Homo sapiens: one gene and its partners. The protein of the gene in region 1 purifies or fractionates together with the protein of each later gene. This does not show direct contact. Each region holds a gene or a part of one and is shown on either strand. Other genes may lie near its edges.

Evidence for each region.
Region 2: the proteins of SDF4 (region 1) and TTC28 purify together in Homo sapiens (affinity purification with mass spectrometry; 3 studies listed by BioGRID and IntAct, with this or other methods). This does not show direct contact.
Region 3: the proteins of SDF4 (region 1) and NEK4 purify together in Homo sapiens (affinity purification with mass spectrometry; 3 studies listed by BioGRID and IntAct, with this or other methods). This does not show direct contact.
Region 4: the proteins of SDF4 (region 1) and ATP2B2 purify together in Homo sapiens (affinity purification with mass spectrometry; 3 studies listed by BioGRID and IntAct, with this or other methods). This does not show direct contact.
Region 5: the proteins of SDF4 (region 1) and MTO1 purify together in Homo sapiens (affinity purification with mass spectrometry; 3 studies listed by BioGRID and IntAct, with this or other methods). This does not show direct contact.
Region 6: the proteins of SDF4 (region 1) and ERF purify together in Homo sapiens (affinity purification with mass spectrometry; 3 studies listed by BioGRID and IntAct, with this or other methods). This does not show direct contact.
Region 7: the proteins of SDF4 (region 1) and ARL8B purify together in Homo sapiens (affinity purification with mass spectrometry; 3 studies listed by BioGRID and IntAct, with this or other methods). This does not show direct contact.

What each region holds. Positions count from the first base shown.
Region 1 is NC_000001.11:1,225,502-1,229,001, reverse strand, and holds part of SDF4 (45 kDa calcium-binding protein isoform 2 precursor), read left to right. Parts: intron 1-55; 5' UTR 56-208; coding exon of another isoform or gene 209-229; coding exon 230-534; intron 535-3,500. UniProt on the Homo sapiens protein: May regulate calcium-dependent activities in the endoplasmic reticulum lumen or post-ER compartment. Isoform 5 may be involved in the exocytosis of zymogens by pancreatic acini.
Region 2 is NC_000022.11:28,677,041-28,681,075, forward strand, and holds the start of TTC28 (tetratricopeptide repeat protein 28), read right to left. Parts: upstream 2,801-4,035; 5' UTR 2,684-2,800; coding exon 2,582-2,683; intron 1-2,581. UniProt on the Homo sapiens protein: During mitosis, may be involved in the condensation of spindle midzone microtubules, leading to the formation of midbody.
Region 3 is NC_000003.12:52,750,441-52,753,940, forward strand, and holds part of NEK4 (serine/threonine-protein kinase Nek4), read right to left. Parts: intron 3,459-3,500; exon of another isoform or gene 3,086-3,458; intron 1,897-3,085; coding exon 1,492-1,896; intron 1-1,491. UniProt on the Homo sapiens protein: Protein kinase that seems to act exclusively upon threonine residues. Required for normal entry into proliferative arrest after a limited number of cell divisions, also called replicative senescence.
Region 4 is NC_000003.12:10,334,587-10,338,086, forward strand, and holds part of ATP2B2 (plasma membrane calcium-transporting ATPase 2), read right to left. Parts: intron 1,715-3,500; coding exon of another isoform or gene 1,543-1,714; intron 1-1,542. UniProt on the Homo sapiens protein: ATP-driven Ca(2+) ion pump involved in the maintenance of basal intracellular Ca(2+) levels in specialized cells of cerebellar circuit and vestibular and cochlear systems.
Region 5 is NC_000006.12:73,478,737-73,482,236, reverse strand, and holds part of MTO1 (5-taurinomethyluridine-[tRNA] synthase subunit MTO1, mitochondrial), read right to left. Parts: intron 2,506-3,500; coding exon 2,393-2,505; intron 2,302-2,392; coding exon 2,111-2,301; intron 1,945-2,110; coding exon of another isoform or gene 1,870-1,944; intron 1,563-1,869; coding exon 1,432-1,562; intron 1,241-1,431; coding exon of another isoform or gene 1,121-1,240; intron 209-1,120; coding exon of another isoform or gene 198-208; coding exon 1-197. UniProt on the Homo sapiens protein: Component of the GTPBP3-MTO1 complex that catalyzes the 5-taurinomethyluridine (taum(5)U) modification at the 34th wobble position (U34) of mitochondrial tRNAs (mt-tRNAs), which plays a role in mt-tRNA decoding and mitochondrial translation.
Region 6 is NC_000019.10:42,249,599-42,252,128, forward strand, and holds part of ERF (ETS domain-containing transcription factor ERF), read right to left. Parts: intron 1,843-2,530; exon of another isoform or gene 1,791-1,842; intron 1,567-1,790; exon of another isoform or gene 1,348-1,566; intron 968-1,347; coding exon 733-967; intron 345-732; coding exon 229-344; intron 141-228; coding exon 1-140. UniProt on the Homo sapiens protein: Potent transcriptional repressor that binds to the H1 element of the Ets2 promoter. May regulate other genes involved in cellular proliferation.
Region 7 is NC_000003.12:5,125,292-5,128,791, reverse strand, and holds part of ARL8B (ADP-ribosylation factor-like protein 8B), read right to left. Parts: intron 333-3,500; exon of another isoform or gene 1-332. UniProt on the Homo sapiens protein: Small GTPase which cycles between active GTP-bound and inactive GDP-bound states.

The DNA of each region.
Region 1 (3,500 bases):
GCTTGGGGAAGTCTTTGCTGAGTCTTGCTAATGATGTGTCTGTGTCTCTCTGCAGACTGTGAGCTGCTTGTCCCCATCCTGCGGCCGTCCTGGGGACACAGAGCCCTCCGTGGTGCCCGGGGATTGGATTGGAGCCAGGACCTCACTTCCTCCTCTGCCCCTGCCCCTGCCCCTCCCAGCACCTGGCCCACACCCTGCAGCCCGCCCCATGGTCTGGCCCTGGGTGGCGATGGCGTCCAGGTGGGGTCCCCTCATTGGCCTGGCTCCGTGCTGCCTCTGGCTCCTGGGGGCAGTCCTTCTGATGGACGCGTCTGCACGGCCTGCCAACCACTCGTCCACTCGAGAGAGAGTAGCCAACAGGGAGGAGAATGAGATCCTGCCCCCAGACCACCTGAACGGGGTGAAGCTGGAGATGGACGGGCACCTCAATCGCGGCTTCCACCAGGAGGTCTTCCTAGGCAAGGACCTGGGTGGCTTTGATGAGGACGCGGAGCCGCGGCGGAGCCGGAGGAAGCTGATGGTCATCTTTTCCAAGTAGGTGCCGCCATGTGCCCAGACTGGGGGGCTGTCCGCGTGCGCTCGCCTGTGTGTTCCTATCCTGGCTTTGCGCGGTGGGGGGCGCCGGGCCCTGTGTCGGGACCTGCCGGGCTGGGAAGACGTGCCGGTGATGAGCGCCACTTCCAGCCTGCTGTGTTTGCGCGGAGGCCTGCGCTGGCAGCCCAGAGCCGCTCCTTGAATGCCCTGGGTCCGCCGGGGGCTCAGAGGGCCAGAGTGGGCCTGTGTGGCCGTCCCTAGGACAGCCTGGAGGAGCCCACGCGGCACTGCAGTGGTCAGCGTCCTCCATGCTGAGGGGCAGACGCCGGCCACGGGCAGCCTCCGCAGGCTGCAGCCCCAGTTGGACGAGGCCTGGCTGAGGAGTGAGGGGCTGCCACAGGTGGCTGGAGAGCTGGTACAGGGTGCTCTGGGCTCCTCCTGACACGCCCTCTACCCTGTGTGTTTGGGGTCCCTGTCACACACGGGCCGCGTATCACACGCAGGCTGGGGGTGTGTGGGGTTGGCTTGTTTTGCTGGCCTGGTCGGGAGCAGAGCTGTGCTGTCAGTGGCCCATCCTTGGCCGTCACTGCCCCCACCCTGCTGAGTCCCGAGACCCTCTTGCTGCCTCTGTGCCTAGTGCCGAGCTTTCTCCCCCGACCCCATCCCTGAGTCTCGAGAGCCTGTTGTGAGGGGTCCAAGATGGGTCAACCTGACCACTCACCCACAAGGAGCCAGGTCCTGCACGGGCGCCTTACTCCTTACGGCACGGCCGGGGTGCCCTGCGGTGTGGCCCTGGAACCTACTTGCACTCAGCGCTGGCCTCACCCCTGGAGGCAGAGCAGGGTCAGGGCGTGCCCGTGAGTCCCCCAGGCCAGCCAGGGTGCCGGGCAGGGAGCCGAGGTGCAGGTGAGAGAACACCCTGGGCCTCCTGGGACCTGCGAGACCTGGGCACAAGGAGGCAGCCCCCGCCGCAGGGCCTGGCCACGAGCTCACCTTCCCGCAGGGCCTGGCCACGAGCTCGCCTTCCCGCAGGGCCTGGCCACGAGCTCGCCTTCCCGCCGGGCCTGGCCACGAGCTCGCCTTCCCGCCGGGCCTGGCCACGAGCTCGCCTTCCCGCCGGGCCTGGCCACGAGCTCGCCTTCCCGCAGGGCCTGGCCACGAGCTCGCCTTCCCGCCGGGCCTGGTGCTCCAGGACCAGTGCAGAGGGGCAGGTGGCAAAGCTGGTGAGCAAGGGGATTGGGCAGGGCTGGGGTCCTGGGGTGCAGGAGCAGGTAGGAAAGGTGTGAGGACTGGTCTGGCTGTGCCACGGCCCTTGGGCTGAGGGCCAGGCGGGAGGGCCCTGAGGATCCAGGCTTTCGGGCGGAGCACAGGTGAGCTGGTGGGACGGAGGCACGGTGCCAGCTGGAGGACCTGGGCACCAGGTGTGGTGTCCCCTTGCACCTCTCCTCAGATGGTACGGTTCGGGGGTCCTTGCGTGGCCTGAGTTCACTTGGTGGTGAGCTGACCAACCCACGAAGAGGCTGCTGGTGCCCCTGGGGCCTGTCAGGTTCACCACCCCTGAGCTCACGAAGGCCTGGCTCGCGGCATCACAGGGGAAGGGTCCCCGTCCCTGCTCAGCCGGTGCTGGGGGTGGGCTGCACGCCTGGGCGAGGGGAGTTGAGGCTTCTGCTCGGTGCGTCTCCAGCTGGACCGGGGTTTCTTTTTGGTGCCTGTAACGAAACCCCAAGCTGTCTCGTTTGAGGAGGTGGGCATGGGGAGTGGGAAGTAACAGCAGGTCTCCGGGTCTCCCTGACTCCTGCGCCGAGCGGCGACAGCGGCCGCTGTGGGTGTTTAGACTTCCCTTCCCACACGCGGGTCCCTTCTCGCCCTTCTCCTGCGTAGGGCCCCGTCCCTCCAGGACCCACGTTCACTCAGCTGTCCTGTCTCCTCTGTCTCCTCTGGGCTGGAACGGTGTCTCAGACTCTCCCGTTTTTGTGAGGACGTAACAGTTCTGAGAAGGGCTGGGTAGGAGGTTTTAGGCTGTCCCTCAGTTTGGGCTTGTGGGATGTGTTTTCTCCTGACCGTACAGGGTTGAGGGTTTCTGGAAAGAGCCCCCAGAGGGGAGGTGCCATGTTTCCTCCTGACCGTACAGGGTTGAGGGTTTCTGGAAAGAGCATCCAGAGGGGAGGTGCCCTGTCCTAGGGGCTTTTGAGCTTCACTTCCTTCCCGCTTCCCTGCACCACGAGATGCTCCAGGCTTTCCTTCCCGCTTCCTGGCACGGTGAGATGCTCTGGGCTCGCCTCCGTGCCACCTGCCCCAGTGCAATAGCTGCCGCCTTTCCAGGAAGCCCTGTCTCCCGTGGCTGGAGCTGGAAGCCAGGGTCTGGGCACTGGGCGTCTTGCCCTTGTTCTCTCAGGAGCCAGAACTTGATAACATGCGTGTGTGCACCAGCCCAGTCACATCTGTGTTCTGCCAGCCCTGTTCACGTGTGTGTGCTGTGTACACGTGGGTACCGGCCTGTGCACTTGCGTGTGTGCGTGCCAGCTCCATGTACGTGCACCGCCCTGCAGCCGTGTCTTCAGGCACCTGAGTTTGGATGAGTGACTCCTTGCCGACATCTTGACTGGAATCCTGCGCCATGTGGTTTCTTTCCACCTTTTTGCTTTTTGCTCTGCCTCGTGTGTGTCTGTGTCTGTGGAGTGTGTAGAGCGTGTGGAGTGTGTGGCCCGTGTCTGTGGCATGTGGAGTGTGTGGCCCGTGTCTGTGGCGTGTGGAGCGTGTGGCCTGTGTCTGTGGCGCGTGTGGAGCGTGACCGGAGCATTCGAGGATGCACGTGTCCACGTGAGACCCACCAGGTGCCCCACCTGCCACATGGCCACCCGGGTGGCCCCGTCCCCAGCCGGTGTGTTTTGGGGACTGTGGAGCTGAGGGTGCCTCCCAGGCCCGTCCACCTCTGGGCTGCTGCGGCTGCTGAGGGAGGGGCGCGT
Region 2 (4,035 bases), on another chromosome or scaffold:
GCTACTTGGGAGGCTAAGGCAGGAGAATTGCTTGAGCCAGGAGGGTGGAGGCTGCAGTGAGGCCAAGATCATGCCATTGCACTCCAGCCTGGGTGACAGAGCAAGACTCCATCTCAGGAAAAAAAAAAAAAAAAAATATATATATATATATATATATATATACACACATATATATTAAGTTAAAACCCTACTGAAATGAAACCAATAAAATAAAATTCAATTTAATTAAAAAATAGTTCCTGAAATATTAATTTTCAAACAATTCTATTTTAGCTTTGACTCTGAACAAAATATAAACCTCAATTTCAAAATATCACAAAGATTGGCTGGGGGCAGTGGCTCACGCCTGTAATTCCAGCACTTTGGGAAGACGAGGCAGGTGGATCACCAGAGGCCAGGAGTTCCAGAGCAGCCTGGCCAACATAGGGAAACCCAGTCTCTACTAAAATAATACAACAAAAATTAGCCGGGTCTAGTAACCCCAGCTACTCAAGAGGCTGAGGCATTAGAATCGCTGGAATCTGGGAGGTGGAGGTTGCAGTGAGCGGAGATCATGCCACAGCACTCCAACCTGGGCAACAGACTGAGACTCTGTCTCAAAAAAATAAAAATAAGGCCAGGTGCCGTGGCTCACACCTGTAATCTCAGCACTTTGGGAGGCCAAGGTGGGCAGATCACTTGAGGTCAAGGAGTTTGGGACCAGCCTGGGCAACACAGTGAAACCTCCTCTCTACTAAAAATACATAAATTAGCTGGGCATGGTGGCACATACTTGTAATGCCAGCTACACCAGAGGCTGAGGCAGGGGAATCGCTTGAATTCGGGAGGTGGAGGTTGCAGTGACCTGAGATTGTGCTACTGCACTCCAGCCTGGAAGACAGAGTGAGGCTCCGTCTCAAAAAAAAAAAGAAAAAGAAGAAAATTTAAATTAAAAATTTAAAAAATCACAAAGACTACAAATACTCAGGTTTAAGCAAATTCCCACCTTTCTTGAATTAACAGTAATTCATATTTGCTTTGTCATAAATGTAGATATTTACCTGCCCCAATGGAATGAAATCCTAAAAGCCTAGTGTTCCCAAATGATGAAGAGAAAGAAACATGCATATTTTAATTTAGAATTTTGATTCAGAATTAATTTTAACCTAGCTGGAGTATACATAATCATTTATGTATTTATTTACTTATTTAAGAGACTGGGTTTCATTGTGTTATCCAGGCTGGAATGCAGTGGCACAACCTTGGCTCACTGCAACTTGTACTTCCTGAGCTCAAGCGATCCTCCCACCTCAGCCTCCAGAGTAGCTGAGACTGCAAGTGCACTCTACCACACCCAGCTAATTTTTGCGGAGACGAACGAGTCTCGCTATGTTTCCCACACTGGTCTCTAACTCCTTGGCTCACTACAGCCTCAAGCCCCTGGGCTCAAGCAATCTGCCTCCCAAAGTGCTGAGATTACAGGAGTGAGCCACCGCACCCGGCCTAGTGGATAGTGTATACTAAGCAACATGTACCCTGCTTTTGCCTAAAACATACTGAAAACATGGCATTGAACACAATCACAAAGTTGGGAGCTGAGAAAAATCATATACTGTAAAATAAATCTGAGATATTAATCTCAAGAAGCTCCTGAAAATGTCTCAAGAACTCCTATGCTGCACTCTCCCTAATAATTTAGACTTTCTACAGATATTTTCTGATCATCTACAGTGTGTCAGGCACCATGCCAGGTACCAAGATGCCATGGTGAGGTATACACAAAACCGGCTCCTGCTTGCAGGAAGCCTACTCTCTAAAACAGTGCTTGCCAAGCTCGCCTGATCACAACTTCGGAGCTTGTTTAAGTTCAAAATCGGCTTCCCTGCTGTGGTGAGCCACAGTCCGTGGCATTTTGATCAGGTGCTCCCAATGATTCCTACGCTCTAACGGGTTTGGGAGGCAAGGGTGGGGGTAAGCTCGAGAGCCCAGAGACATCCCGTCCAGCGGGAGCCCCACCTCTAAAGTCCATGTCGCTCAGCATCCTTCCCCCTGACTAGTGGCCCAAACACAGCACGAAGCTGAGGTGGGTGGAACGCTTTTCAAAACAACGCTCTTTGATGAGCCACCGACAGACTTGCTCGCCTCCGGGGACGAAGAGCTCACTCCTCACAAACCCCACCCCGGAAAGGTAGCACCTGAGCATCCCGGGCTGCGCCGACACCTGTCTCACCGCGGGTGCCGCTTACCGCTCCGGTGGACTCCAGTCCCCAGATTCCGCCCCACGGGGGCTGGGGGAAAAGGGGAGGCGCTGGGCGCATTAGGCGCTGACTGTATACCGACACCCCCCACCCCGGTGTGCGCAGGCCAACACCCATACACACCCTCACACACCCACACACATCCACACACACTCTCGCGGAAACTGAGCCAGGCAGGCGGCGGACCAGGTCCCGCCGCCTCACGGCTCGCGGCTGGGATCGAACCCGGACTGCGAGACGCCTTCCGCCTCGCAGGCGCTCCTCTGCCGCTGAGGCCCGGCCCGGCTCCCACCGCCGGAGTTTCACAAAGAAAGTCTCCCGGCCCGAGCCCCTCACGCACTCACCGGCGCCGACGCCGGCGGCGACTCTGGCTCCCGCCGCCTTCGGCTCCTTGCGGGGGTCGGCCCTTGGGTCGGCTCGGGCGCCGGCGGCGGCGACTGCTCCATCCCCACGGGGCCCGGGCCGCGTCCGCCTCGAGCTAACGGTCCCGCCAGCTAGGCGCGCGCGCCGGTTCCGCGCGCCATGTTCCCGCCGTGCTGCGCGCCGCCGCGGCGCCCCTCACTGCCCCCAAACCGCGCGCGCGCCCCCGCGGGCCCACACATGCACCGCGCACGCGCGCGTTCGCCGCGCCCCCTCCCCGCGCGCCCCGCCTCGCGCCCTCTGGAGCTGGCCGCTGTTCCCAGTGTCTCGCCCACCCCCGCCGGGCCCGTCGGACTCGGCGGGTGAGCGCGCGGTTCCCGGCTCCGCACCGCCGCCTGCCTCTCTGCAGACCACCCCGGACCCGACCCCTCGGCCATTTCCCCACACTGCCGCTTTCGCTTCCCCCACGACGCGGGGCCTGGGACGACGGTCTGGGCCAAGAGGAACTTCCCCGCAAGAAGTGTCGAGTTAAGGACGCTACTAAGGGGGCGGGATCGCCATCGTGGAGGTGTGCAAGCACGTGCCTGCGTCCCGGAGACAGCCAGACTCAACGGAGAAGCTGAGTTCAAGTCCCACATCTCCACTAACCCTTGCGTGTTAGGGTCAGGGCTTCGGGACTTGTTTCTCCTAAATCTTTTTTTTTTTTCTTTTTTGAGACGGAGTCTTGGTCTGTCACGCAGGCTGGAGTGCTGTGGCGCGATCTCAGCTCACTGCGAGCTCCGCCTCCCGGGTTCATGCCATTCTCCTGCCTCAGCCTCCCCAGTAGCTGGGACTACAGGCGCCGGCCACCACGCCCGGCTAATTTTTGTATTTTTAGTAGAGATGGGGTTTCACCATGTTAGCCAGGATGGTCTTTATCTCCTGACCTCGTGATCCTCCCGCCTCGGCCTCCCAAAGTGCTGAGATTACAGGTGTGAGCCACCGCGCACGGCCTGTTTCTCCTAAATATAAGGACTCAATATAATAATAAGAGAAAGCCTCAGCACCGCGCCTAGCACTTAGTAGGTAGTGATCAAGAGAGAAGACCTCTTAAGTGGTTTTAATGGTTAAGGACCACAGGTTCTCAAGAAAGGGAAATCTCAATTCAAGTCCCGCCTCCATCTCTTGAAAACTGAGAAACCTTGAACAAGTCACTCAGAGGAGCCAAAGATCCTTGATTTCTACATGTGCAAAAGGGGAGTGTGGCAGTAGCACTGCACAGGGTTGACTGAGCTTTCAGGGAGATGATGACTGTACGATCATGCCTCTCTTAATCACGGGATGGTTCTGAGAAATGCCTCCTTAGGTGATTGCGTCATTGTGCAAACAGCAAAGTGCATTTACACAAACCTTGTATAGCCTTGTATAGCCTACTACACACCTAGGCTGTATGGCGTAG
Region 3 (3,500 bases), on another chromosome or scaffold:
GGGAGACGGAGGCACGAGAATCATTGAACCCAGGAGGCAGAGGTTATAGTGAGCTGAGATCGTGCCACTGTACTCTAGCCTGGGTGACAGAGTGAGACTCAAACAAACAAAAAATACATATATGTGTGTGTATACACACACATGCACACACACACAGGCACACAAATACAAATACAGTATATTATTTGGCAATAAAAAGGAATGAGGCAGGGTCCAGTGACTCATGCCTATAATCCCAGTACGCTGGGAGGCCAAGTTGGGAGGACTGTCGAGCCCAGGAGTTTGAGACCAGCCTGGGCAACATGGCCATGGCAAGGCCCCATCTCTCTACAAGAAATAGAAATAAAAAAATTAGCAGGGCATGTCTGTGGTCCCAGCTACTCAGGAGGCTGAGGCAGGAGGATCACTTAAGCCCAGGAAGTCAAGGCTGCAGTGAGCTGTGTTTGCACCACTGCACGCTAGCCTGAGCAGCAGAGACCCTGTCTCAAAAAATTAAAAAATGAAATTTTTTTAAAAAAGGAATAAAATGTTGGTACATCCTACATCATAGATAAACCTTGAAAACATCAGGTTAAGTAAAAGAAGGCAGGCCAGGCCCAGTGGCTTATGTCTGTAATCTCAGCACTTTGGGAGGCCAAAGCAGGCTGATCACCTGAGGTCGGGAGTTCGAGACCAGCCTGACCAACATGAAGAAACCCCGTCTGTACTAAAAACACAAAAGTAGCCGGGCATCGGCCGAGTGCGGTGGCTCATGCCTGTAATCCCAGCACTTTGGGAGGCCAAGATGGGCAGATCACGAGGTCAGGAGATCGAGACCATCCTGACTAACACGGTGAAACCTCGTCTCTACTAAAAATACAAAAAAATTAGCCAGGTGTGGTGGTGGGTGCTTGTAGTCCCAGCTACTCGGGAGGCTGACGCAGGAAAATGGTGTGAACCCGGGAGGCGGAGGTTGCAGTGAGCCGAGATCACGCCACTGCACTCCAGCCTGGGCGACAGAGTGGGACTCTGTCTCAAAAAAAAAAAAAAAATTAGCTGGGCGTGGTGGCGCATGCCTGTAATCCCAGCTACTCAGGAGGCTGAGGCATAAGAACTGCTTGAACCCAGGAGGCAGAGGTTGCAGTGAGCCGAGATCGCGCCATTGCAATCCAGCCTGGGAAACAAGAGTGAAACTCTGTCTCAAAAAAAAAAAGAGAAAAAAAGAAGCCAAACACACAAAGCCATAAATTGTATGATTCCATTTATATGAAATCCTCAGAATAGGCAAATCCATAGAGACAAATGTTGCCACGAGTTGTGGGCAAGAGGGAATGGTGAGTGACTGTTATAGGGTACTGGGTTTCTTTTTGGTTTGATGCAAATATTCTTCTATGTTTAAACTGATACATAGAATTACTGATTTTCCTAAAATGACAACAGAACCCACATATTTGTAACTGCACTTTCAGTCTTCTCTCCAAAACCAGTATCTCATGTGTGCATATCACTCACCTGGTCCTTTGGCTTTTGTTCTTTGATTAGGGGCTGCAGAGGCTTCACTGGTTCATTCTTTTCCCCAGTGACAATGTCAGAGGACCACATGGGAATCAGGTTTTCAGGCTGGGCACTGGATTTAGTGTTGTCCTGCAGCATCTCCTCTTCCACTTGAGAAATACTGCATATACCTCCTAACTCATTAGAGGCATCCAAATATCTTGGCTGATTCTCCTGAACAAAGCCATCACTCACTGAATCCCTCCCTTTTGCAGGTAAGATGTCAATATTTACGCTACTGATTGTGGCTAGTTCTGTGGTATTGCTCAAGTCCTGTTTGCAGGTATGGGCTTTCAGACTGGCAGGTGACTTCAAGAGACCAGAGGCCCTGGGTTTCTCCTGGGACAAACATTTGCCTTCACCCTGAATGAAAAGATGTTTGGAAATTATTATAGCACTCCTCATATCTTATACAAAATCAACTCAAAATGCAACAAGAGGTTCCTCAAAAAGTTAAACATAGAATTAACATATGACTCAGCAATTCCACTCCTAAGTATGTAATCCAAGGAACTGAAAGCAGGGATTTAAGTTAAGTATTTGTACACCAATGTTTACAGCAGCTTTATTTAAAATAGTCAAAAGGCGGAAACAACCCAAAAGTCCATCAGCAGATGAAGGGATAAACAAAATGTGGTAAATACTGCCAGGCACGGTGGCTCACACCTGTAATCCCAGCAGTTTGGGAGGCCAAAGCAAGTGAACCACTTGAGGCCAGGAGCTTGAGACCAGCCTGGGCAACATGGTGAAATCCCATCTCTACTAAAAATACAAAAATTAGCCAGGTGTGGTGGTGCATGTCTGTAGTCCCAGTTACCTGGGAGGCTGATGCGGGAGGATTGCTTGAGCCTAGGAGGCGGAGGTTGTAGTGAGCCGAGAGCCCGCCACTGCACTCCAGCCTGGGCAACAGGAGTGAAACCCTGCCTCAAAAAAAAAAAAAAAAAATATATATATATATATACACACACACACACACACACAATGGAATATTTCTAATCTATAAAAAGGAATGAAGTTCTGATACATGCTAAAACACGAATGAACCCTGAAAACATGCTAAGTAAAATAAGCCAGGCCAAGTGTGGTGGCTCACACCTATCATCCCAGCACTTGAGCTCAGGAGTTTGAGACCAGCCTAGGCAACATGGCGAAACCCCATTTCTATAAAAAATACCAAAAAATTAGCTGGGCATGGTGGCAAGTGCCTGTAGTCCCAGCTACTTGGAAGCCTGAGTGGGAGGATTGCTTGAGCCGGGAGGTCAAGGCTGCAGTGAGCCGTGATCACACCACTGCACTCCAGCCTGGTTGACACAGTTGAGATCCTGTCTCAGAAAAGAAAAGAAGTAAGCCAGGACAGGGCAGGGAGCAAGCAGGGGCAGGACTGGCACTGTGGCCAGAGATGCCGCTGGGCCACAAAGGTGATAGGCAGCTGGGAACTCTACATTGAAGGCACAGAGGTGAGGCACAATGCCCGGAAGGCTGGTAAATTGAATGCTGAGGACGGAAGAGTCTGATGACATACTACTGAATTTCTTTGTTTGGAGTACACATTATGTACTCTTTCTGGAGCATGTCTACAAGCTCTACATGGAAACGATCTGAAGCTGAAAACATTGGCAGGGGATGCAAAAACCAGTCTTTGATGAACTATGCCAAAGAAACAGCTGCCTTCTATTCCCAAAAATGCTTTGCCCATAACTAAGCCTACGGAGCCTGTCCCAGCAGCACAGTCAACAAATGGCATGCATGCTTCCTACAGACTCGTCCACCTGAAATACTCTCTTCTTGCTGAATTTACCTTGGTTGCGGAGCAGACGTTATTAGGTGTCTATGTGCAGCCATCTTATCCCTCTGTATTAAAGTGGTTTGGACTAATATTCATAGGGCACAGACTTTATCAAGATGGCATATTTAGGCCAGGCGCGGTGGCTCACACCTATAATCCCAGCACTTTGAGAGTCCGAGGC
Region 4 (3,500 bases), on another chromosome or scaffold:
CTGCTGAAATGCATCTCCATTTCATCTTGGCTCCCCGGTCCTCCCCAGCACTGCGTTTCTGTGCTGACGAATGAGCACTGAGAGGCTCCTTCCCTGCTTTCTGCTTCTGTCCTGCCGCTATGGGTCGTGGACATTTGCCATCAACAGGCTCCCTGTGGCCCGCGCCTCCTACTGGAGGCACTGAGGGAGGCGCTCCCACCAGCACACCGGGTTACCTGCTTGGCTGCAGGGGTTGTGTTGTGGGTGTTCTGGTTTTGGATGGGGGTAGAGGCCCTTTATAAAGTTTCAAGGGGTGAGCTGGAGTCTACTTCTCATCAAAGAAGCTGGAGGCTAAGACTGACACTATGCCAATTGGAGAAGACCAGAACCAGGGGCTCCCCTGCAGATCAGAAGCGCCTGACTGGAAACATAGCAGGGCGATGGGAGGAAAGACAGACTTGTTCCCTATGGGGCCCGAAGCCATGGGTCCGGGAAAGAGCTAGACAAAGCCAGCAATGAGTGATCTAGATCAGAAGTGGTGGCATGAGGAGATGAGCTTGGCAGGAGGGAGATGAAGGAGGGGCCACAGTCCCAGGCTATCTCTCAGATAAAGGAGGGCAGGATGCTGAAGGGCATATCAGGTCCCTCTGGGCCTGCTGGCACCCAGGCAAGATGTGAGGCTCGACCCACCATTTTCTACCAGGGGTCAAGCTGAATGGGCCAGGGACCTTGTCCTTTCCAGGAAGGGCTTAGAACTTCAGCAAGTTCCAAGCTCAGCCACAGGGAAAGGTGTCTGCAGGGCAGCTGATGCAGTCAAAAGTGCAAGGGGAGGAGTGACAGGAAGCGGGCAGAGACTCTGAACTGCTGGGGTGCAGCGTCTAGGCTGTGAGCTCCTAGGTGGCCTGGGGATCCCTGGCTGACTATGACCTCTGACCTGCAGTGACCTCTTGGCTCAACTGTCCCCCTTGACCATGACCCTCATTACTGTGGGTGCCCCCTGACCAACTGGGAAAGTCTGGTTGACGTGACCCTCTCCTGGGTGGATCCCAATGTGACTGACTGGGACCCTAAGGGGCTTGCTCCCCTTGACCCACAGTGACCCTTCTGCTGACTTTGACTGCAAGACTGGGACCTCTTGTCCAACTCCAACCCTTGCCTTGGTGGTCCAGGCTTTTCCTGACCACATATGACCCTAGGCCAGTGGGACACTCTGTGTCCCCTCCATGTCTGTCCCCCTCTGGCTGCCGGGACCCTGTGGTGGGTTGGGACCATTTGGTCACTGATGTCCTCTTGACCAAGGGTGACCCCTTGACTGAACCAGACTTTTTGGCCACTTGGGACCCTAATGACCCTCTGACTGACCCTGGTCCACTGAGTGACTGCCACCGCATGACTGGCTACGCTCTCCTGACCAACGGGACCCTCTTCGGTGGCTGGGACCCTTCATCCCCCTGGGCCTGATTGTGACCGGCTGCCCCCCATGTCCTCTGGTGCCCCAGCCCCTGCCCGCCTGGGAGCTGGCGTGGGCAGTGCCAGCCGGAGGCAGTAAGGAGTCACACTCACGCCCGGCTGCAGCAGGAGGAAGGCTGGTCGGAGAGGAAAGAGCATTGGACAACGACACGCGACTAGGGCTAGAGAGATTGGCTACATCCTGGCTCTGGCTGGTGACCGAGGACTGTCTCCGCAGGGCCCCCTGAAAGGAGGCCCCGCTCTTGAAAGTATTGACTACTTCAATCTGCAACGGAGGAGAGAACGAGACAAGTTGCGAGAAGAACGAGCACAACGGCTACATGACTGACAGGGCAACGTCACAAGAACAGCCGCAGCCACGGCAACAACGACAATGTCACTTAAATCAAAACAAAAATACCAGACACACTCCAAGGCTCTGAAAAACGTCTGCTCAGCTCTGGGCCCACCTGCAGGCCCCAGGGTCCCCGGGAGGACACAGGGGGTCCGGCCTTTGTCCTGTGCTAGTGGCTCAGGGGCCAGTGGGCTGGCCAGTGGGGGAGGCAGTGATTAAACATGGTATCTGGAGGGAAGAGAGCAGTGTTCAGCCTCCCTCAGGTACAGGCGTGGAGGTAGAGGGTGTGGTGGGGGTCCTGAGGTGGACAGAGCTTGGCCTAAATTCCAGCTCTGTCACTTACTAGCTAGCTGACCTTGGGCAAGCCACCTCTCTGAGTCGAGTTTCTTGTTCTTAAGAAGGGTCAATGCCACCTGCCTGGCAGGGTTATCTGTAAGTGGCAAAGCACCTGACCCGTGTTAGCATTCCGCAAGAGGCAGGCAAGACAGGCGCCCCTGCCCACTCAAGAAATCGCAGTCCTTGCTTCCTCCCGTAATCTGGAGACCCCTGCGTGGCTTTGCCGCCAGGGCAGTGACAGCACCAGGGACATATTCACTGAGTTGTCCTGGACCTCCCAGGAGGTGGGGGCAGGCTGGGAGGGGTGGCTGCGGGGCCCTAACCAGGGAGGGTGAGCCCAGGCCCGTGTCAGGCACCTCCGGGTCTGAAACCGGCTTCCAGTCCCCACCCCAGCTGTGCCAGCTCAGTAGAAGGGGCCATCTCCTGGACCTTGGTAACCTCTAAAACTGGGGGAGTCACATCTACCTCCCAGGGCTGTGAAGGTCACATGAGGTGAGGTTTGGGACAGGGTACAGAGGGGTGGGAGGTGACCCAGGTGAGCTCTCTGCTACATCGGATGGAAATGAGGTGCTGGGCCACAGCTGGCAGGATGGTGGCCAGGTGGCTGCTTCTACACTGCACTTCGCCCAAGCATGCTGGGGCATGGAGGAGCTCCCACTCCAGCTCCCCAGATGGTCTGGGCAAGAGACCCACAGAGTCCCTTCTGACCCTCCCCTCGCAGGGCTGTGACAGCACTTGTGAGCTACAACACCTGCTCCAGGCATAAGGGGACCATGTGAGAGCATGTGGTATGTGTGTGGGGGGGTCGGGGGAGGCGCGCAGGTGTGTCGTGTGCCACGTGGCAGCCATGCTCTCTCTGCTCTGGGGAAGAAACCTGCTTCTGGCTGGCTACGCCCTGCACCTGTGCTCCCCTGGTGTGCTTGGTGTGTGCATGTGTGTCTGTGTGTGCTTGAGGATGACTGACCTTTGCTCCCCAGAGCCTCTCCACCCCCTAGGGGAAGCTGGGGAGAGCAACTGAAGCCCCCGTGGAGGCGGCGGACCCCCTGACCACCACGCCCTGGGGGACCCTGGGCGACCTGGCCTGCAGCTTCTGTCCAGCCTCACACGGCCCCTGTGGGTGGGTGCCCCCAGCCCTGAGCGACAGTCCCCTCACTCACCTCTGCCCTCAGAGCCACCCTTCCCCACCCTCTCAGGGAAATCCCCCTGGAGACCATGGTGGGTGTGACCCCTACCACTTCCCCGTGCTGCCCTGAGAGGGCACAATGGGACCTCTCTGAGGAGGCCGTGCTGTTCCTTAGCAGCCACAGGAGTGGGTGTGCAAGTGGCTGGTGAGAGCTGGCCGGGACCCCTCTGTAGCCACCCTCCCTCAGCACCAGAGCTG
Region 5 (3,500 bases), on another chromosome or scaffold:
GTGAGCCGGCTGTCAGCATTATCAGGGCGCAGTGACAAACGGAACTCTACTCGGCTGGTAAACATGCGGTATGGTTCACTGGTGCCCAGAGTAGTGAGGTCATCAATCAAGACTCCTATGTAACCTTCTGTTCGGCTAACCACAAAGGGAGGCTTGCGACTGACCCGAAGACTGGCGTTGATTCCGGCTATCACACCCTACAAGAGCACTGAAATGTTTAAAAGGCCATTATGAACTAAACAAACGGCTATCCCATTCAGAACACTACTCAGAAACAATGGCATGGGACAGGAAGAAAGCAAGTATTGCCCCTAAGGGATATAATAGAGGTAGAAAATGTGATCCATATTCAGAAATAGAATATGGGTAATATATCACTTTAGAAGGCTATGATTCATTGTTTTCAGAGATATCCATCTAATCTTCCTGATAAGCTGCACTCTGCGGGGACTAATCTTTTTTTTATCCGGAGACAGGGTCTTCCCCTGTTACCTAGGCTGGGGTGTAATGGCATAATCTTGGCTCACTGCAGCCTCGACTTCCTGAGTTTAAGCAATCCTCCCACCTCATCCCCCCAAGTAGCTGGGACTATAGGCACATGCCGTCACACCTGGCTAATTTTTACATATTTTTGTAGAGATGGGGGTCTCACTACATCACTCAGGCTGGTCTCGAACTCCTGGCTCAAGCAATTCTCTCTCCTCAGCCTCCCAGAGTGCTGGGATTACAGGTGTGACGCACCATGCCCAGCCGGTTAATCTTTTTTTTAAAACCCACCTGTGAAACTTCTCTAGCCTTTTCCCACTTGCAAATAAAAATAAAATAATTTCTGACTTACAAGGAATAATAATATAATAATTTCTAATGAAGTATATTAAAATAAATTTTAAACTTCACAAGCAATACATCTAATCAAAATATGATATCACACAGGAGCTCAGAAAAGAGTAATAAAGCCATAGTGTTTTAATAATCCTATTATTGGCTGGGCAAGGTGGTTCACACCTGTAATCCCAGCACTTTGGGAAGCCAAGGCAGGTGGATCACCTGAGGTCAGGAGTTTGAGACCAGCCTGGCCAACACAGTGAAACCATATCTCTACTAAAAATGCAAAAATTACCTGGGTGTTGTGGTGCATGCCTGCAGTCCCAGCTACTAGGGAGGGCTGAGGCAGGAGGATCGCTTGAAGCTGGGAGATCATATCACTGCACTCCAGCCTGGCAACAGAGCAACACTCTGTCTCAAAAAAAAAAAAAAAAAAAAAAAACCCTATTATCTACAAAAGCCATCTCCAAACACCCTGAAACATAAATTGTCTTCTATTAGTATGAATTGTATCTAAGATCTACATAGTTAACACAACAGACATTAAAAGGAGAAATACCAGTTAAATAGTCCCTTTCAGTTTACATTAATATCTTAACTTCTTACTTGAGCTGCAGCTTCCTCATAACCAGTGGTGCCATTGATCTGTCCAGCAAAGAAGAGTCGTTGAACCAAATGAGTCTCCAAGGAAGGGGTGATCTGACGGGGATCTAAGTAATCATACTGAACACCGTAGCCTGACCAAAGAACAAAGACATTAAATAAGTAAATACAGAGCTGGATTTGCTCAAGGTAGAGATGCAAGCATTACCCTTAAATGCCCTTTAAAAACAGACTATTTAGGTCAGGAGCAGTGGCTCACACCTGTAATCTCAGCACTTTGGGGGGCCAAGGCGGGTGGATCACCTGAGGTCGGGAGTTTGAGACCAGCCTGACCAACAGGGAGAAACCCTGTCTCTACTAAAAATACAAAATTAGCCGGGCATGGTGATGCATGCCTGTAATCCCAGTTACTCAGGAGGCTGAGGCAGAAGAATCACGAACCTGGCAGGGGGAGGTTGTGGTGAGCCGAGATCGCACCATTGCACTCCATCCTGGGCAACAAGAGCAAAACTCCGTCTCAAAACAAACAAACAAACAAACAAAAAACAGACTATTTAAAATGTATAGGTGTTGGGCTTCATCTTCTGAGGCTCTGAACAACAATGACTGTAGCTAAGGCCTCCTCACTGACCATTAAAACAATGCTGACCTTATACTGAAGGGCACTTGTGATCTTCTTTACCTGGCTGAATCACTTTAGCTTTCTCCAAGCCTCTGATGCATGTGATCATTTTCTCTTGTAACTCAGCTGGTAGCGTCATAGATAACCCCTGTGGGTAGATAAGGTCAGAATCCATTCCTTCAGGTTCCAACCAAACCTGATGTAGACGGTTTGGAAAACGCAAAACTTTTGATTCAATGGAGGGACAGTATCTAGAATAGAACATTTAAATAAACTTGAAATGAACAAAAGAGGATTGACGTCATTCCTTAAAGTAACTGAGCACTGACATTTTGTCCTTACCGAGGTCCTCTTGTCGTTTCTTTAACATGACTATTAAGGTGAAGGTTCTTAAGGACAATCTCATCCACTCTAGGGTTGGTGTGAGTCAAGTAACATGGCAGCTGATCTTCTGGCTAAAAAACAGTAACCAGATGCAATACTGATTTGCTTATCTACTAGTTTCTCTCTTATCCAAATAAATTCCACATGATACGTACTGACTTTAATAGACACTAAACTTGTGCATAATGCCTAGTATTACTTATGAAGTATTCTTGCCAAAAATAAACATCCCAAAAGATGAAGTTAAATTTAAGCAAAACTCTAAATCTAACTAGCAGTTTAATTTTTTTTTAATGTTTTTATTTTTTGAGACGGAGTCTCACTCTGTTGCCCAGGCTGGAGGGCAGTAGCGTGATCTCAGCTCACTCCAACCTCTGTGTCCCGGGTTCAAGCGATTCTCCTGCCTCAGCCTCCCAAGTAGCTGGGATCACAGGCATGCACCACTACGTTCGGCTAATTTTTGTATTTTTGGTAGAGACAGAGTTTCACCATGTTGGCCAGGCTGGTCTCGAACTCTTGACCTCAGGCGATCCACCTGCCTCAGCCTCCCAAAGTGCTGGGATTACAGGTGTGAGCCACCGTGCCTGGCCATGGTTACTTTTTTAAAAAAGTTATTGCCAAGTGCAAGTGGCTCACACCTGTAATATCAACACTTTGGGAGGCCAAGGCAGGTGGAGCACGAGGTCAGAAGTTTGAGACCAGCCTGGCCAACATGGTGAAATCCTGTCTCTACTAAAAAGACAAAAATTAGCTGGGCATGGTGGCGGGTGCCTGTAATCCCAGCTACTCGGGAGGCTGAGGCATGAGAATCACTTGAACCTGGGAGGCGGAGGTTGCAGTGAGCCGAGATTGCACCATTGCACTCCAGCCTGGATGACAGGGCGAGATTCCGTCTCAAAAAAAAAAAAAAGAAAAAAAAAAAGTGTTTTTGTGCCCACCCAGGGACTCCTTGCTTTGTTTGGGCTGGGCGCCGTGGCTCACGCCTGTAATCCCAGCACTTTGGGAGGCCAAGGTGTGTGGATCACCTGAGGTCAGGAGTTTGAGAACAGCCTGGTCAACATGGTAA
Region 6 (2,530 bases), on another chromosome or scaffold:
GGAAGATGAAGATGAAGAGCAGGCTGGTGGTGAGCGGGGGTCCTCGGTGGGGGACAGCACCTCGGAGGGCGTTGAGGGAGGGAAGCGGAAGTGGCTACCACCCGACGGCACTGGCGGGGCACTCTGGGGCACTGCACCCCCTGGCAGAAGGGAGACAGTGTCAAGGCCCCTGGCCTAGCCTGAAGGGGCATGTAGACCCTCTCCACACCAACCATCCCTGGTACTCACCAGCCAACCCCACATCAATGAATGGGTAATTGACCAGCACCAGTTTGTTGAAATTGAACTTGTAGGTGAACCGTTTCCCCTTGGTCTTGTGCAGAATGCGCTTGTTATAGTAATAGCTGTGGGTACAGAAATGCCATTGGGAAGGTCAGGTACGTGGGACCCAGGTCTAGACTCCACACCTTAACACGCACTTAGGTGTGGTTCCCAAAGGCCAACTGAGGAACGTAGGCCACAAAAGACAAATCAAGTGCCCAGAGGGTGGGTACCAGCTCTCTCCTCACATCTAAGGCAGGACTAGAGGATCCACTGGTGACTGTAATCTCTCCTCAGGATACGTCTGTGTTACCAAGGGGCTCAGGGAAGGGCTGGGAGTGGCCCAAGGTCACACAGCTAGGATTTGGCAAAGCCAGGGGTCAGACCCAATGCTTGTTCCCACAGGCAAGGGGCTGTGCAACCCCGGGGGGGCACTCCACATGTGCTCAGGGGTCCCCAGCCCGTCCTCACCGCAGGGCCCGGCTCAGCTTGTCGTAATTCATCTGGGGCTTGCACTTGCGAACGCCCCACAGCCGGGCCACCTCATCAGGGTCTTTGATGACGAATTCCCCGTAGTCCCCCTGCCAGGCAATGACGCCCTGGTACTCCTCCTTCCGCAGCAGCTCCAGGATAAAGTGCCACAGCTGGATCTGCCTTGAGCCAGGGGACGACTCTGGCTTGTAGGCCCAATCCGGGAAGGCAAACCCTGGGGACGGGAGGCAGGGAGTGGCCTGGGGTCAGGCTGCCAAGTCCAGGGCTCTGGGTCCCATCCCAGGGTCCACCTCTGCCCTGCCTTCAACATGGGGAAATCTGTCTCACCTCAGCCAAGTCAAGATCTGATTTAAGAGAAGACAGTGCGTGTCTGTCTGTCTGCATGTGAGGGGCTAGACAGGAGCTGGGGGGGAGGGGAAGCTGGAGCCCGCTCCAGCGACACCGGGAGAAACAGGAAACCGTCGGCGGTGGGTCCCGGGGCCAGTGCCAGGGGGCCAGGCACCAAGCCAGGCTGGCGGGCAGGGCTGCCAGTGGGGGAGGGGCAGGAAGGGGCACACGTGGCCAGCCGGGTTGGGGTACAGCCCCCCAGCTTACCCCCACTCCCATTCAGAGCCAGTTGCACCACCCCAGCTCCTCGGATGTCCTCCTTAGAAACATGCACTGTCTCCTCCGAAGACCCAACAGAGCCCCTACTCCCAACCCCAAGACCTGAGAGGAAGATTTTTTTTTTTTTTCTTAAAAGGACCAGGAGGGGTGGGGTGACTCGGTTGCCGATGAGGTCAGCGCTTGCACACACAGAGGCTTCTGTCTTCCCTGGAGAGTGAAACCCAGACTGTCTGAGAGGCCCCCCAAGCCCTGGACCCTCTGAGCTACACTGCCCTCCCCAGACCCAGGCATCCAGGCCCCACCTGGCTGGAGGGCCCAGCCCAGGCCTGGAGCTTGAGCAGGCACCCTGGAGCTGTCACCCTCTTCCCACTTCTGCCTTCTCATCTTCAGCTCCTTCCCTGCCCACCTGCCTGCCCACCCCCAGCATTAACCTTGGGTAGAGGTTGGCGGTGGGCTGGCTGGTCTCTGGAGGGGGTGGGCAGCCTGGGGTGGGGGGTGGGGGGTGGGGGGACTGCGGTTGTTGTCATTTCCCAACAACAGGGGCCATCAATAATTCAGCACCAGGCAGCCGGTAATGGAGGGGTGGGAGGAGGGAAAGGGGAGGAAGGGAAGGAGTGGGGAGGCAGAGCAGGGTCCCTGGTGCCACTAGAGAGAGAAGGCCAAGGTGGCCAGCTAAAGATGGGCGGCTCCCAAATCCAGTCAGGCTGCAGGGGTCAATCCGCCTCCCTTGGCCCCAGCTCAAACAGGTACCAACAAGGCCTCCAGGCAACACATCCACCCTCAAAGACTCCACCCAAGTCTGGAATCCAACAAGGGATCCTTCCCCTTGGGAATCCAGGGAATCAGTAGTTCCTGCTCCCACAGGGACCACCCCCTCCAAATCCAGAGCTCACTGTAGGCCCCCAACTCCTGCCCAGACTGGGCTGCAGTACCACATAGCCCCCGGAGTCCCTGCCCCATTCAGATATATCCCAGCCTTCCACCAGCCCCTCAGGGTGCCAGGGATATGACCTCCAGCTGTTCACAGACCAGCACCAACAGCCCCTGTTCCATTTAAAAGTGACAGCCTTTGACAACCCCTTCCAGAGACCCCAGAGCACCATCGCTCTCTTGGGAATCTAGGTGTTCAACCCATTATCCTCACCCTTCTAGAGAATCCAGATCACAAGGT
Region 7 (3,500 bases), on another chromosome or scaffold:
TTTAATGTTGACAGTAGTTAATCTTGGATGGTAGAAATAAGTGGCTTCTTCTACCTTATACTATTCTTTTCACATCTCCGCTAATGAGCCTGTATTGTTTTGATAACACAAAAAAAATTTCAGAAAAAAAATTTTTTAATAATATTTGAGTAACTTTTTTATAGGTTCAATGTATTTTGTATCCATGTTCAGTAACCATCCACTTACTATATCTTTGAAAAACTTAAAAAATCCATTAACTTGTGAAATATCTTCTAAGACAGGCATTTAGAATGCATTATTGCACTCTAACAGCTTCTTAATGAGAACATTTGGCTTTCAAGATTCTTGGTCTGCAAGGAAAAACAAATAATTGGAGCGGGGATGAAGGGTAGAAAACTTTATGGAAGGTAGAGATGTTCCTTTGTAAGATGCCTCATTTTCCACAACTCAGAATCTATACTTGAAGACCACCTTATTGGAAGACTAGCTTCTCCAGTCAAGTTTCAGATGTGTAAAACATCTAGACTTGAACCACAGCCCATTTTCTTTAAAAATGGTTTTTGCCATTCTTACCTCCAAAGAAATTAAATAATAAGCAATACAATCAAATACAAAATTATTTCTGCTTTTTTTTTTTTTTTTTTTTTGAGACGGATTTTCACTCTGTTGCCCAGGCTGGAGTGCAGTCGCTCAATTTCGGCTCAACGCAACCTCCGCCTCCCAGGTTCAAGCAATTCTCCTGCCTCAGCCTCCTGAGTAACGCCAGGCTAATTTTTGTATTTTTAGTACAGATGGGGTTTCATCATGTTGGTCAGGCTGGTCTCAAACTCCTGACCTCATGATCCGGCCGCCTTGGCCTCCCAAAGTGCTGGGATTACAGGCGTAAGCCATTGCGCCTGGCCCTCCGCTTTTTTTTTTTTTTTTTTTTTTTTTTTTTGAGACGGAGTCTCGCTCTGTTGCCCAGGCTGGAGTGCAGTGGCGCAATCTTGGCTCACTGCAAGCTCTGCCTCCAAGGTTCACGCCATTCTCCTACCTCAGCCTCCCGAGTAGCTGGGACTACAGGTGCCCACCACCACACCCAGCTAATTATTTGTATTTTTAGTAGAGACGGGGTTTCACCGCATTAGCCAGGATGGTCTTGATCTCCCTCTGCTTTTTAAAGATACTAAAAGTAGTTCAACAACTCAGTAATGCCTGTTAGCCAGTTATTTAAATATCCAAACATAATATTCCACTCTTACTTTCCACAGATTATCATTCCTTCTCCTAATTCATGTTCATAGATAAATATATAGTCCTCAAATGTTAGTCAGTATGCTTAAGATGCCTGGATTTAAAATGCTCTCTCTAGAGAGACACACAGTACTCATTACGTCTGTATTTCTTATTCTATAAAGCAAACATTTCATATACGATACAAAAACTGCAGCTGATTTTTTAAATTAAATTAAATACAAAAAAGATGTTTAATGGATTAAGATCTCCCAATCCACAGTTCTATGGTTCTAACCTCAGCTGGATCTAAAGAGGTGGGAAAAGTAGAAAGTACACTGGCCCCAGATTCTAATTCTATCTCTGCTACGAATTAGCTTTGTTGCCTTGGAATTCCACTTAACCTCACTGGATCTGCTAGCCACATCTAAAAAATGAGGGGAAAATTAGACTACTTAATCAAGGTTTCTACAAACTCTTTAAAAAATGATTCTAGGTTCATATTTCTACAGTCTTCCCAAATATCTTCTTTTCCTAATTCTCAGCAGTAATAAACTTTCCCTTGGATTAACCTTTCAGGTATCAACAATGTGCAAAAGTGTAGACAAATTTTTATACTTCCATTTAAAAAATACATAATGTCCATAAGATTTATCCTATATTATTTTGGCAAATCCTATTAGATATTTTTTAATAACTATAACATATCTAAAAGCCCCAGTTAAAAATAAAGATTACTCAATATACATTACACATATAGGCACATGACTTATTGTGCAATAACTGCCAGAACAGTTAGCAATGGAAAAAATACTTCATTCCTTGACACTAATCAGAAAAGACAAGACTAGGGTGTTTCTTTTTTATAATGTTCAAAACAAAAGAGAACACTACATATATCAAGTGTCTCTACATAAAACTGGATTAAATTAGGTATCATTTCAGTTTTAAAATCCTAAGGAAAGGCATTCTAAGTCTGAGCATTCTGTAACTAAGCTGCATTATCTTTTAGACTCAAACCAAACCCTACATATAATAGTAATTCAGTCTCATGAACCTTTTGAGTAAGTTAAATGACATCTATTAAATCTTCCTTAATGTTTAAGGCACATGTAGTGACATTTTAATGTTTACAAAATGTTGATTTTTACAAAAAGAAAATTGGCTTCAGCTGAAGCTTTTCATACCTGAGAAGTCGCTTCTTAAATGTGAATAAGTAAATGGTCACCTTTCTAGAGTGACACATAGTACTCAATACATCTGTATTTCTGATTCTATAAAGCAACTATTTTATATACAATACAAAAAGTGCAGCTGATTTTTTAAAAGGCTAAACTTACTATTTTGGACACATTGTTTCTACCTAAAAATCTCTAAAATCATCTTTAATCACTAACTTGGATTTTAATCACTACATCCTCAACATATTCTATAAGAATCAGGGGTTAGGTTAGAGCCTTGAGGTTAAAAAAAAAAAAAAGTATGAAATTCACTGAGGGGGTCCCTTTCAGCATCTTAAAAGCCACAGCCAATTACAGCCCAGATGTCTTTTTTCTTTTTTAAATTAATATTACTTTTAATTGACAAATCATAATTGTATACATTTATGGAGTACAATGAGATGTTCTGATACATGTTTACAGTGTGGAATGACTAATTCAAGCCAATTACACATCCATCACCTTATCTTTGTGACTTTTTTTTTCTTAACTGAAGCTACCCACACCATTACAATTTTAAAAAGAATAGTCTAATGATAACAGTGGGCTGGGCACAGTGGCTCACGCCTGTAATCCCAGCATTTTGGGAGACCAAGGCAGGCATATTACTTGAGACCAGGAGTTCGAGAACAGCCTGCCCAACATGGTGAAACCCCGTCTCTACTAAAAATACAAAAATTAGCTGGGCATGGTGGCAGTCGCCTGTAGTCCCAGCTACTCGGGAGGCTGAGGCACGAGAATAGCTTGAACCCAGGAGGCAGAGGTTGCAGTGAGCCAAGATCATGCCACTGCACTCCAGCCTGGGCAACACAGCGGGACTCCGTCTCAAAAAAAAAAAAAAGATAATGGTGGAGCCACTGGTTCACTTTGACTTCAACAGCTTTGCAGAAGTTTTGTTGTTGTTAAATATAATAATCTAATGGTGGGGGCGGGGCAGGGGGGAACACATGATGCGATTACTTTCCCCAATCCATAAATCCACTACTGCAGCCCACATCTGGATAGATACAGTGATTCAAAGTAGAAAATGATACCAGTTGAGTCCCTTCTCAGTATTTTTCAAGCCATCGTTCCTGCATTAAACAG